Homo sapiens: one gene and its partner. The protein of the gene in region 2 interacts with the protein of the main gene of each other region in a biochemical or structural test. Each region holds a gene or a part of one and is shown on either strand. Other genes may lie near its edges.

Region 1 (6,179 bases), on a different chromosome or scaffold from region 2:
GGGAGACTGGCCACTGAGAGGTAGAGCACGTAATGGGGGCATGAGACAGGCCTGGTGCAGCTGAAGGGGAAGCAAAGGGAGCTGGCGCTGTGGGCACTCCAGGGCCACACCAGGAGGTTCTCCTGTGATAGAGACAGGCCATGAGTCTACAGATGTCTTCATCCCTGGAGATGTTTCCAGCAGCCACTCTGTTCTGCCTGCTCCTACTGTGGGGCCTGTGGAGTCTGGTTCCACAATGATGATGCTTTTGTTTTCCTAAGAGATGAGGCCGCTTTCCTGCTGTGGGGAAAATGCAGGGAGGCGCCTGTTGCCTGGGCTGGGCAGGAGGCAGGATCAGGTCTCTGGAAGGAAGGAGTCTGTTTTCTCCCCCGTCCTCGCTGCTGCTGATGGTGGGGCTGGTCTCCCTGGGAGAATGTAGCAAGTCACTTAACTTTGTTGAAAGCTTTCTGTCTCCTTGTTGGGAAAATAATGAGGTTGGATTAAATTCCTGGTTTTCAAACTTGCTTTGTTGTTGTTGTTTTTAAGCAGCAAAATCCCCTTTTTAAATGACATTTTTATGGGGATACTAGTTTACAAAATAAATTGGGAACTCTCCTGATTGGCCCTGGGTGGGAGAGGTGAAGAGACTAGAACCCTCTGCAGCCGTCCTGCGCTCCTGCAGCAATAGCAGGCAACTCTGAGAAACAGGGTTGAGAACCAAGAGGTTAGATGACCTTTGTCTCTGGGCACTCTGTGGGTTCCGAATGGAATGACAGGCCTCAGAAGGCCCTGGAGTCCTTGCTCCCCAGGCTGTGGGGGGCGGGTCACCAGCTTTGGCATTGCCCAGGAGCCCCTGATTCCACATCACATTTTAACTTGAATCCCTGGGCGATTCATCGAAGGCTGGAAGGCCTTCCCACCGCGTGCAGAAGCTCTCCTACCCGGTTCCTACCTGGTTCCTAGAAGAGAATCCATGCACCTCACACCCGCGACCTCTGCAGTGGGAGTGCTGGGTTGGCGAGCAGCCCATCCTGATGCCGGATGGTGGATGGCGGGGCTGGCGAGGCACCTCCTTCCTGCCCCACGGGCATCTCACTTCCACTGCCTGCCTCAGAAGCAGCACTTCCACCACCCCTCTGCCTCTGTGGCACCTCTGCCATTTGGCTGGGTGAGGAGAGGTAGAAAGAGGGCCCCCTGTGCTTTGCTTTGGTTTTTTGGCTTTGCCTGGAAATGCGGAGAATCCTGCAGAGCGCAGACTGAGAGGCTGTGAAATCTCAGTCCCTAACTTGGGATGGGACTTTGCTGTTTTCCTAAAGGAACTGGCCCAAATAAGGAAGGAGGAAAAAGAGAAGAAAAGACGCCGCCTCGAGAACATCAGGTTTCTGAAAGGGATGGGCTACTCCACGCACGCGGCCCAGCAGGTACTCCACGCAGCCAGCGGGAACTTGGATGAGGCCCTGAAGGTAGCAGCTCCCTCGGGGCCTCTGGCCTTGTCCCTGAGCAGTGGGTCCTGCCCAGAGCTCCCTCCATGGCTCTCCAGCATCCTCCCGGGCTCACTCCTATGGGCTGCCCCGTCATCCGGATCTGAAGGGCAGGTTTCTCCTGGGCTCCAGCCCAGACACAGGCTGCGTGAGGCCACGTGAGGCCCCATGCTCAGTGCTTGGCCCAGGCCTGGCTCCAAAACGTGGTGCCTGTCCACACCAGCACAGTCCACAGGCCAGGACTTTGTGTAGGGTTTCTGTGTGCAGCAGAGTTTAGTGAAACAGGCAGTTTCCACGGCAGAAAAAAGAGAATGGGAATTCAACTTGTAGTATAATTGTTTGGCATTAAAATTTTAAATGTAAGTATCTAGTTTTATTTATTTAGTCCATCGTACATGTTGGCAAAGGGAGAGCTTTTCAAAGAACCCCTCAGGAGTGACAGCAGGTTGGGATCCAGACAGCAGTGACTTTACCTGGGCCACTTCCTTCCCTGTGTTGGAGAAGCATATCGAATCCTCAGTAGGGCAGGTGCTGCGCTGCGTCTCAGCAGCTTGGCATGGAACCACCCTCTGCCCTCTCGGCCCCGCAGGTCAGTGAGAGACAAACTCAGAGCACACGTGGTGAGGGGTCCCGAGGGGGTGCACAGGAGGCAGGGGGCTGGCTGTGTGGAGGCAGCAGTCCAGACAGATGCTGGGGCAGCGCGGCGGGCAGGAAGCAGAGTGGTAGGAGCTGGCTTAGGTTGTGCACGTGCTGGGGGCGGGGCTGGGGGGACAGAGATGGGGTTGGAGGGGGTGGGGTGCAGGGCAGGTGTCCTCGTTTGCCCTGCTGAGGCGGGTGTGGGTGCAGCAGGCACGGGGAGTCCACCCTGCCTTTGCCTCTTATCCCTGCCCTGTTCCCCGGAAGGCTCCACAAGTCAGTACTTTTGTAACTATGTACATGTATATTTAACATATACGTTAAATTTTAAATTTTTATTTGAATATCATCTAGTTCGTTTTTTTGTGTGTTGGAGAAATATTAAGAGGTGGGAAATTCTGAATATTCGAAGGGACTGATGGGTCTCAAAATAGATGTGAATTATACGAGTGGCACAAAAATACTTCCAGTCAAAATGGAAGTACTGAGTGTTGGAAAGGAAAGTCTCCACAGGGTCTTTGAAGATTAAGTATTGTGTGATGAAGAAATCAAGGGTCAAAATAACCCTACTACCTGCCTGACATTTTAAGTCTAGAGGGCATGACGCTTTCAAAGATCAATCAGGCAGCCCTGAGCTGCTTGAGACCTTTCTGTCTGTAGCTCTGACAAAACCTGTTTTCTTGGATGCTGCTTCCACCTGCTCTCCATCCCTTCCTGCTCTAACAGAAGGGATCTTTTCCCTGACTAGTCTTGCTCCTCCTTCAAACCCCAGCTGTCCTGGTCTCTGGCTGGAAGCCTTCTGTGAACACCAGCCTGAGTGGGAGCCCCTTTCTCTGCCTCATAGCAGCAGAGGACGGCGGGGTCTGCCTAGCACATGGCAGGGTGCAGCGCCTGTCTGAATGTGTGAAGAGTTCTTAGTGATGGGTAAAGGGTGTTCCTGTGTGTTTTAGATTCTGCTCAGCAATCCTCAGATGTGGTGGTTAAATGATTCCAATCCTGAAACCGACAACCGTCAAGAAAGTCCTTCCCAGGAAAACATTGACCGAGTGAGTGACAGGCCTTTGTGCCCTCAGCTTGGACAGCCTCGGGTGGGGTTGCTTGGGGTAACCCGGGTGAATCAGGCAGCAGGACTGGGGGAGTCCGTGCTGAAACCTTGGCTCCCAGGCTCCAGGTGTAACCTGCCCACCTCAGAGGCCACCCACGCAGTAACAGAGGGCAGGGGAGGCCTCCTTGGAAAGCAGGAAAACTGGGGAAGTGTCAGGAAGTTCTCTTTAGGTTTGCTGCCTTTGTCTATGCACCACTGTTTGCATCAGCCTCATTTCTCTGCCTGTGACCTAAAAGGATGGCACTGTGACCTGGGAAACCCATCCAGCTTTGTATCCCAAGTGACGGCTCTGTCCACATTTGTGCCCCTACACGCGTTAGCACGCCTGTATGCTGTGGCCACTGACCTCGCGGTGCTCGTGGTGAGGCTGGTGTGGCGCCCTGCTCTCAGCCCGAGGTCACTGCCTGTCCTGAGATGGCTGCTCCCTGACGCACCCGACTTGAGTCTTCCAAGCCCCCTTCCAGGTTGCTCTACGCTCACATTGCACAGAAGCATGACTTGTGCACAAAGGGCCATGGTGCACACGCCGGGAGCTCTTAAACATGAGAGTCGGCTGTCCACTCGTATGGCTGACGGGGGTGGCAGAAGAGGCGCCAGGGGCTGATGCTGTGACCCCTGCGCTCTCCCCTAGTTGGTGTACATGGGTTTTGATGCACTCGTGGCCGAAGCTGCGCTGAGAGTGTTCAGAGGCAACGTCCAGCTGGCCGCCCAGACCCTTGCTCACAACGGAGGAAGCCTGCCTCCCGAGCTGCCGCTGTCGCCAGAAGACTCTTTGTCCCCGCCAGCCACGTCCCCTTCTGACTCCGCAGGTAGGTCTGAGGTCTTTGAGGGCCGCATTGAGAGCAAAGTGTCTTCAGAAGCCAACAGATGTGGCCCTAAGCCACGGCAGATGTGGAGACTGAGGGGGCGTCCCCTGACGTCACCGGGCCGGCCACCTGGACAGTGTGGCCAGCAAGAGGCACAGTCTGAGGTTGACTGTGGTCGTGCAGTGTCCCCAGGACAATCCTCACATAATTCACTTACTCCTGCGGTATTTTATTGTAGGAACCTCTAGTGCCTCAACAGACGAAGACATGGAGACAGAGGCCGTCAATGAGATACTGGAAGACATTCCAGAGCATGAGGAAGACTATCTTGACTCAACTCTGGAAGATGAAGAAATTATTATTGCAGAGTACCTATCCTATGTAGAAAATAGGAAGTCAGCAACAAAGAAAAACTAAATAATGAACAGAAATAGCGCTAATTTTCTGCTTATAAATGCTATCATTATGAAAAGGCTAATGCAGCTCTTTCTGTTCTTACTTTTTATCTGAATTACAAGTCCTCTTTGGGTGTAGGAGGGGGTGGGCAGGGGACAAGTCCAGGAGGGGTCCCAGGGCCTTCATGCGTGGTCTCGGGGAAGAAGCTTCCTCTGGCCTGGCGCAGGCCGTTCCATCTGCCTCCCAGGTCTGCGTCCCTAACCCCTTCCCCAGCTTGGTGTTTTACCCCGAAACAGGAAGGAACAGGGGTCCTGTAGAACAGGGGTCCTGGGGAAGGTGTCCAGGGCAGGGTCCTGGGAAGGGTGTCCCGACCGCTTCCTCTCCAGCTGTGGCTCCATCTGCCCAGCTTGCCTGCCTCCTGCACCCACTGCCCTGACCTTCCTGCTTCCCACGCTGCCATCTCTGCCAGGGTGCCACATGGGTTCCTGTGCCACCCTTTCCCCGCCCCTCAAATCGTCCTTTAAGTCTTCCTTCCAAGTGCTGTGGGGCATAACGATGAGGCGCTGGCCTTGGGGGCCACACCAGGTCGCAGCAAATGGCTTCAGCCTGGGACGCCAGTGTTTTATGCTCTTAGTTCAGTAAAATACGCCCCCGAAATTCAAGATTGAGTGTCAGGCTTTATATATATTCAGCATTCCTCATTACAGAAATCTTCTATTGAATGGGAAAGGTTTAAATGCTAACCAAAGCAATTTATTTTTAATTAATATTTTTAGACTCTGTGCTGTCATACTGAACTCACTGCTAGCTAAGAGACCTATCAGAGATTTAGATATATTTTCTCCAGGTTTTTTGTGGGTTTTCTTTGTTGTTGTTGTTGTTCTAGCCATGTGACAGAGGCTCTTTCTAAAAGTATGTAGTTCGCTGTGTGTCGGCTCCAGCAGTAACCGTCCTCACTGCGCCACGCACTCCTCTGTAGATGTGTGCCCAGTGGGAGTTCCTTCCAGCCCCAGGACCACAGCAGCAGCCAGGTGCCGAGTGGATTGAGTGCCAGGTGCATCCAAGACTTTCCCTCCCTTCCAGAAGGCACTGACTGAAGACAGGATGGATCATGCGGAGCCGGCTGAAATGCTCCAACTTTTTCAAAGTGTGGGTGGTCCAGTTTGGACTGATGGGAATCTTCTTGTCATTCTTTTTAAACGGATGATACCGATGGAAATAAAAGGTGGGAAATATATTCAAAAATTGTCACCCTAATTTTGCATTAATTTACTCAGCCTCCCCAGCTGTAGGTGTTGAAAGTGTCTGGGTGACTAGCTCTTCATTTTGATTGCAGGATGTCTGTTTCCACTGAGTTTTGTGAGGAGATGATGGAAGGATGATCTCAGAAGCAGAGGGCATCTGCTGTGAAAGATGCCGCACGCCAAGCGGGGCTGGGGTGCATCCTGGGCAGGGGACTGAAATGTACCTGTCAGGGTTTGCCTCAGAAGTGCCTGGTGAGCTGAGGTGACGCGGAGTCTCAGCCTCATTTGACACAATGCCACACTTGGATTTGGGGCCTGAATTTAAGCTTTTGGCTAACAAATCGCTGTCCTGCGCTTGGTTCAGGCGTGTCTTCTAGCTTCCCAGCTGTTTTTAGCCATCATAGAAGCAATGCCACACCAGCAGGCCCCAAAACTCTTCCGTGTCTTGTGAAGAGAGAGCCGCAGAGGAAGCCGGCTGTGGAGGCAGTTCTGGGCATGCGCTATGTCCAGAATGGGCTGCCCTCCAGGCATG
Region 2 (7,041 bases):
GTCTTTGTGCAGAGTCCCTTCCTAACCACCTATTTAAAATAGCATTCCCAGGAGCCCTGTGTCTACTTACCCTGCTGCTTGTCTTCAGAACTGCCAGACACACATGTGTGTGTGTCCGTTGCTTGGAGTGTATATCTCTCTTGCTTTGAGTGTCATTTTCACCAGGACAGGGGTGGTATCTATTTTGTTAGTGGACAGACATCACTGGAGTGGTGCTTCCCTTGTGCTCATATCAGAGCCTGGCAGACAGTAGGCACTCAATAAAGAGATGTTTCAATTAACAAATATTGTTTAGATTAATGATAATAGGAAAAGTGTTCAAGGCAGAGGAACTAGCCCAGGCAGGAGTCTGTGGGGCTGTCAGTACAAGTCTCTGAGGTATGCAAGAGGTTGGGCCTTGATCCTGAGGATGAAGATGGGAGCATAGCCCTGAAAAAGGTTCAGGACAGGCTTGGCATGGCCTGTTTTGTATTTAGTAAGATTACATTGAAGATTTCAGTACATTGTGTTCTCTGACAATGTTTAGTAGCATTAATTACTCTGACATGTTTTGGCTTTTGACATGAAGAAATGTACCTTTGTTTTAATACTTGTTTCTCTTTCCTCCTTCTAGTTCTCTTTCAACATGTTCGACCACCCTATTCCCAGGGTCTTCCAAAACCGCTTCTCCACACAGTACCGCTGCTTCTCTGTGTCCATGCTAGCAGGGCCTAATGACAGGTCAGATGTGGAGAAAGGAGGGAAGAGTATGTGCTTGTTTTTATTTGAATAGTAACTTTTCCTGCCCTAAGTCTGCAATGCTGTAGCCTTCAACAGTACTTACTTTGCATGTGGGAGTCAGAAGCTAGTGTTACTGTGAAAATGGTGCTGGGATTTATCCCTGACTTGCTCTGTTGGGGTGGGGTGCTAATTATGGTTAGGTTTATGGCTGATAACCATTCAGTTCCCAAAATAAATTACATCAAGTAAGATTCTTCATGAAAGATCACTGGGACATTCTGGCTACCCTAAAAACAGTTTAAGGCTTTTTGTTAGATATAAAGAAACTGCATCTTGCCTTTGGTCTGTCCTTTTTATTTTTATTTTTTAATATTTCTTAAATGTTCTTTCCACAGTAATTATGCCACCCTCGGCCCTGGACCAACTCAGTAAGTATCTTCTGAGTGACTTAAGGACTTAGATAATGTACATATGGACACCAAGAGTCAGCATGGGCTCCTCAGTACATCCAGACACCAGTGCCCTTTGTCAGCATCTGGTTGTGAATTGTCCGTGGAGGGCATGCGCTGGGCTGGGAGAACCTGGGTCACAGGTACCTAGGGCGAGGCCAGGGCCCCCTGAACCTCAGCTTCATCACTGCCCTGGGTGCTTCAGGTTCCTCCTCTGTGAAGGGGGTTCCCTTTCCCTTCCTGATCACCACCTCCACCCACCCCCCAACTGTTCTCAGTATTCTGTCAGGATTAAGTGAAGGTACAAGTATCAAGTGCTTTGTACCGTGCCAGGGCAGCTGATGCCATTGGCTGGGCTCACTAGATTTTTTTCCTAAAGGAAGAATTGGTCAGCTCACAAGAGGGCGCTGTGAGCAGGTTCCTCATCCCCTCACCAAACATCTTTCCTGAGCTCCAGACCCCCATTTCTTTTCTTTTATTTATTTATTTATTTATTTTTTGAGACAGAGTTTTGCTCTTAGCGCCCAGGCTGGAGTGCAGTGGCGCAATCTTGGCTCACTGCAACCTCTGCCTCCCAGGTTCAAGTGATCCTCCTGCCTCAGCCTCCCGAGTAGCTGGGATTACAGGCACCCGCCACCACGCCCGGCTAATTTTTTGTATTTTTAGTAGAGATGGGGTTCCGCCATGTTGGGCAGGCTGGTCTTGAACTCCTGACCTCAGGTGACCTGCCTGCCTCGGCCTCCCAAAGTTATGGGATTATAGGCGTGAACCACCATGCCCGGCCCAGACCCCCGTTTCTAATCTCCAGTGCACCAATGCATCCTCAGCATGTCAAAAACTGAGCTATTGTCTTCCATCCAGAAGCCACTCCTCTTGCTGGGCTCCTGCCTCTTACCAGGAGTGAGATAGGCCCACAGGGGTTCTAAGAGTGGCCACATTCTTCCTCCCTTTTCTCTGACCCCTTATCCCATGAGAGCAACCTGGAAACCCATGCCCTAGCCCCATACTACACAGGCACAGAAAATCCCTATCATGGACAACCCAATCAAGGATGCAGTCATTGCCTTCCAGACTTAAAGAGTGTTTCTGGTGTGAATTCTTCCTGTGTGAGGCAGGAGACTGGGGTTGGCCAGGAGGACAGGTTCATGCTTGGTTTTGGGGGCCTCTGGTGGCAGCAAGCAGAGAACAGGTGCTGGCTGTGGTGTGACTCACCTCGGGCTCTTTGCCCAGCCTGACTCCAGAGTAGCAACTTGACCTCTCTGAACCTCAATGTCCTCTTCTTTAATTGGGGATATCTACAGTGTCTGTGCATCAGAAGTACTGTAGTGTCTGTGACAACCTAAGCTATCCGATTCCAACCACAAGGTGGAGGTAGCCCCTGAGCCAGCACTGGCTGTGGCTATACCCAGTGGAGGCCTCAGCTCAACCAGTAGGTCAACAGAGCTATGGAGTTCACAGTTCTCACGAAGACCCTGTCATTACAGAGGAGAGAACAGGCTCCCTAAAAAGGTCTTCCTTTCAAGTCATGCTGACCCAGGAGCCAGACACCAGGGGTGACCCTTGGCACAGGTGTCCAGAAGAGACTCAGGGGCTGGGTCATTGAGGTGTAGCTCAGATCAGTGTTGTTCAAATCTTTTAAGTGATGGGAGAAACTCTTTCTGTCTAAATCTTATAGGAAGTCCTCTAATTCATAAAATGAGGTTCTCTGCTTTTTTTGGAGAAAGTGAGGGGGTACAGAGGGACTGGGAGCCCCAGGGCACTGGGAGCCTCTAAGTCACAAAATGCAGTTTGAGAGTCAGTGGACTGAGGGACATTGGAGTCTCTTTCACTTGCAACAATCTCAGACCCTTGGCTGAGCCCAGTCCAGTTTACTGTGGACCAGCTGTATGTCAGCTCCATGGCTGTGCAGCTGAGAGGTGGACCGGGACAGAGGTCCTGGCCCCTTTACTGCCAGTGTGAGAGTCACCCTTGGTGATAGGAGGGAGTGCCCACCCTTACTGTACCTCCATGCTACTCTCAGAGGTTCTCTGTAGCTTCCTGCCCAAGCTTTTAACTTGATTTGCTTTATTAGAATTTTTAGGGAGATCTCAAATGGAATCTGCGTTACTTCCTAACACTAAGTGTGATTTTTATTGGAATATTTGTCTGAACTAACAAGCTAAATTCTGCTTTGATGGTTGAATCCCTGGACTTAAGCCAGCAGCCTTGGTTTGAATCCTGGCATCACCACTTGTGTGCTGTGAGGTCTTGTGTGCTCACCACTTGTGTGCTGTTACTTAACCTGTGGGCCTTAGTTTCCCCATAGATAAAAGGGGATAATGATAGTACCTACCTGACTGTTCTGGGAAGACTGAACAAGGGCCTTACACATGGCAAACACCATCACTACCATCAGTTCCTTCTCGGTCTTCTCCCGGGGGCCCAGTGTCTCCTGGGTTTTCCTGCCTCTTTTTGCCAGCCCTTCCTTTATGTGCCTGTGCACCTCTTGGGTCAGCACGTCACCAGTCCAGCTTACTTGCCTCTGGCCTTGCTTTCAGCCCACACCTCAAGGTCCATCAGAGAGAGGGGGCGTCCTATGTCATGACCCTGCTGAGAGCTCACACTGCCCGCTGGGCCCAGGCCCTAGGTTCTACCCCGTGTGGTGCCCCTCCCCTTCCCAACCACTCGCACACCTGTCCCCAGCCTGTCTTGCCTAATTATCCACCATTTCTGAACTGCCTGGGCTCCTCTTCCCTTCCACGCCTTTGCTCAGGCTGCCACCTCTGCCTGGATTTCCTCCCAGGTCTGCCCGCCCAGTGCCCAGCCTAAAGAACTCGGCCTCTAGGAGCCTAGCCCAGTAGCTCTGCCCCCTCCTGCCAGCTCTTCCCACAGCACCTGCAGCATCTGGTTGTGGTTTTCTTTGTTGGAAGGTTTCTACCTTCAAACTAGAAACCTTTGAAGGTCGGGATTTTGTCCAGGGCATGGTGGGCACTGAAATTATTTATGAATAAATGAATGAACACATCACTTTTTAAAATGTTGACTTCAGAAAATCACAAGTCTATGCCAGTGCTGTGTTACCAAGTTGCCAGGTTCCTCCTTGAGCCGTGCACTGTGCTCTCACAGAGGGGGATTCATCTGCCAGAGGAGTGTGGGGTTGAGGGCAGGATTGTGGGGAGGCTCCTTCTATGGGAAGGCGTGGGCCGAACAGGTGTCCCTTCATAGGAGCTGTGCCTCATAGTCTCTCTCTTATTTTCAGGCCGACTTAACATTACCTATCCCATGCTGTTCAAACTGACCAATAAGAATTCGGACCGCATGACGCATTGTGGCGTGCTGGAGTTTGTGGCTGATGAGGGCATCTGCTACCTCCCACACTGGGTGAGTGGGGCTGCCAGGGTCTCTAGAGAGCAGCCACTTAGGCAGAGACATCTCCTGCACTCGAGAGTCCTGGCCCTGGAGCAGGTGGCCCCGCCTACTCCTCCTGCTCAGCGTCTTAGCCTGAGCCGACCCAGCGAGAGAGAAGGGATCCAGAGCAGTGCACTGTGCCTTATGCGGGCTGGTGGGCTCTGGACGCACCTGTGGGCCACTGTGCTGTGGGAGTGGCCTTTTCTTTGATAGTTGCGCAGCTGAACTGTTCATCTGTGATTTCCTGGGTGAGGCGTTTTTAAAAATAATGGAGCAACAGTATTTTTTAGGTGGTCTAGTAAGTAGGGTGTTTGAGGTTTTTATGCTTTTCCCCTACTTTTAGTAGTCTGTCACAGCATACATGTTTTCAGTTACCTCTGACGTAGTCTCCCAAATCTCTCAACTGAGCTGCCATGGGAGTGACGTCTTTTTCCTTACAAGCAGGCTCTCTTTGGAAAGTTGACTTGAAGGATGTCATTGCAGATCTGGGCTGGGATATCCAGGGCGTGTGAGCCACCAGAGCCTGCCCTCAAGGCTGTACCCCTCAGAGAAGTGAGCAGAACTGTGCCAGTGCTGTAGGGAGGAGCCTGCAGCAGTGAGAGTTCCACACAGGTAGCTGTGGCCCACTTGGCTCCTTCTTCTCCTCACTCCTCTCCCCAGCTCTGGCACATTAGGGAAGTTCACAAAGGGACCTGCTTGTCCTTCTCTTTGTGCTTGGATTACATCAGGCATACTGAGAGACCCCGCAGTGAGCTGTGGGCTGGAAACTCTCAGGAGTGCTTGCTTGGCTGCCACCAGGGAGGTGGTCTGAAGCACAGCCCACCTCTCCTGCTGATGCCCTATCATGGTGGCCGCCAGACGTTCAGAAGGGATGGCCTTAACTAATATTTTCTGAGATTAAATATGAATTGAAATTCTGGCCAGGTACGGTGGCTCACGCCTCTAATCCCAGCACTTCGGAAGGCCAAAGTGGGCAGATCACTTGAGGTCAGGAGTTCGAGACTAGCCTGGCCAACATGGTGAAACCCCGTCTCTACTAAAAATACAAAGACTAGCCGGGTGTGGTGGCACGTGCCTGTAGTCCTAGCTACTTGGGAGACCGAGGCAAGAGAATGGCTTAAACCCAGGAGGCTTAGGTTGCAGTGAGCCGAGATCATGCCATTGCATTCCAGCCTGGGCGACAGAGCGAGACTCCATCTCAAAAAAAAAAAACAACAATAATATGAATCAAAATTCTGAAGGTCTCTTTCCTGCTGTAGCAGGTGACCTTGCCCATGCTGCCATGGTAGTGGCATCCTCTTCAGCCTGGGTCCCAGGGTCCTTCCCAAGGTCTGGGCCTGGCCAGTGTCTCCCCGACAAGAGCCCTGCACTCCCATTGCACCTCCTAGTGCCTGGCCTTCCCATGCTGCCTCCTCACCTCAGCTGACTAGGCCTGCCCAACCTGGCCTGTTGGGGGGCTTTTATGCCTCAAAGCCCAGATTGGCTCACCTGCCCTCCCCAGTATTTGCTGCTCAGCCCCTTGCTATTCTTGTGTTTGTCTGCAGGTGCCCCCAAGGGCCTGAGGCCACATTGTGCTCATCCGGTAGAACACCTGGTCACTGAAGCCACTCTAGGTAGCTGAAGTGTCAGGCAGTGACTACTTCCCCAGTCCCTTCTGTGGCTCACCTATAAGAGGAGGTGGTGATGCTGGGGATACACTGTATCTCGAAGGTTCTCCTTTAACCCATAGACTTGAAGTTTGGGTGGCCTCTTGTCCAAGCTGTTGGACTGCTTTAGACCAGGAAACTAATTGAACCCTTTCTCCCCTGGAAAGCCTCTTTAGGTAGCCTGGAGCTGGTTTGGGGTGTGAAGCCATCAGGCCACCTCTTCCCCTGAGCTGGCCTTCCAGCTCCTGGCATGGGCAGGCGGGTGACAGGTATACCCCATCTGCTGTCTTGGAGGGCATGTGAGCCAGTGCTTTTTCTGGGCTGGCTGGTGGACTCCATCCCACCCATGCTCCCAAGCTTCTTCAGGGCGAGCCAGCCTGGAATAGGTACTGGCCTTTTTCCTTGTAGCCAAGGCTTCGTCTGCTGACCTAGATCCGAGCCCTGGACTAGCCGTTTGTGACATGTGGGTACTCGGCTGCCCGTTGTGCTGTATGCTCTAAAATGCTGCATGGGGAGGGCCAGGCATCAGCTCCTCCTGCCTGCTTAGTGCTCTCAGGCCTCTTCCAGCAGCCCATTTCTCACCTCAAGCCCTAGTCTGACCTCTCTGCCTGTCCTCCTCACATCACCTATGGCAGTGTCCTGCCTCTGGCTGAGGAAGCCACCCCCCATCCCTGGCCAGCCTTCCCTCAGGCTTGCAATTGCAGCCCAGTATCCTTCCCCTCGCTGACAAATTTCCCACAAAAATCTACCCAGGGACAGTGCGCCTGGCCTGCGACTGGCTAACTCTGAGCCTTAGAATACTTCCTGTTAGAACATCACTCCTGGGGATGCCAGACCCC

The links. The genes of interacting proteins can lie anywhere in the genome.
Region 1: the proteins of UFD1 (region 2) and NUB1 form a complex in vitro, tested with the Homo sapiens proteins (one study listed by BioGRID).

What each region holds. Positions count from the first base shown.
Region 1 is NC_000007.14:151,372,802-151,378,980, forward strand, and holds the end of NUB1 (NEDD8 ultimate buster 1), read left to right. Parts: exon of another isoform or gene 1-1,295; coding exon 1,296-1,442; exon of another isoform or gene 1,443-3,046; coding exon 3,047-3,142; exon of another isoform or gene 3,143-3,832; coding exon 3,833-4,010; exon of another isoform or gene 4,011-4,245; coding exon 4,246-4,424; 3' UTR 4,425-5,648; downstream 5,649-6,179. UniProt on the Homo sapiens protein: Specific down-regulator of the NEDD8 conjugation system. Recruits NEDD8, UBD, and their conjugates to the proteasome for degradation. Isoform 1 promotes the degradation of NEDD8 more efficiently than isoform 2.
Region 2 is NC_000022.11:19,469,175-19,476,215, reverse strand, and holds part of UFD1 (ubiquitin recognition factor in ER-associated degradation protein 1), read left to right. Parts: intron 1-612; exon of another isoform or gene 613-613; coding exon 614-746; intron 747-1,115; coding exon 1,116-1,148; intron 1,149-4,407; coding exon 4,408-4,529; intron 4,530-7,041. UniProt on the Homo sapiens protein: Essential component of the ubiquitin-dependent proteolytic pathway which degrades ubiquitin fusion proteins.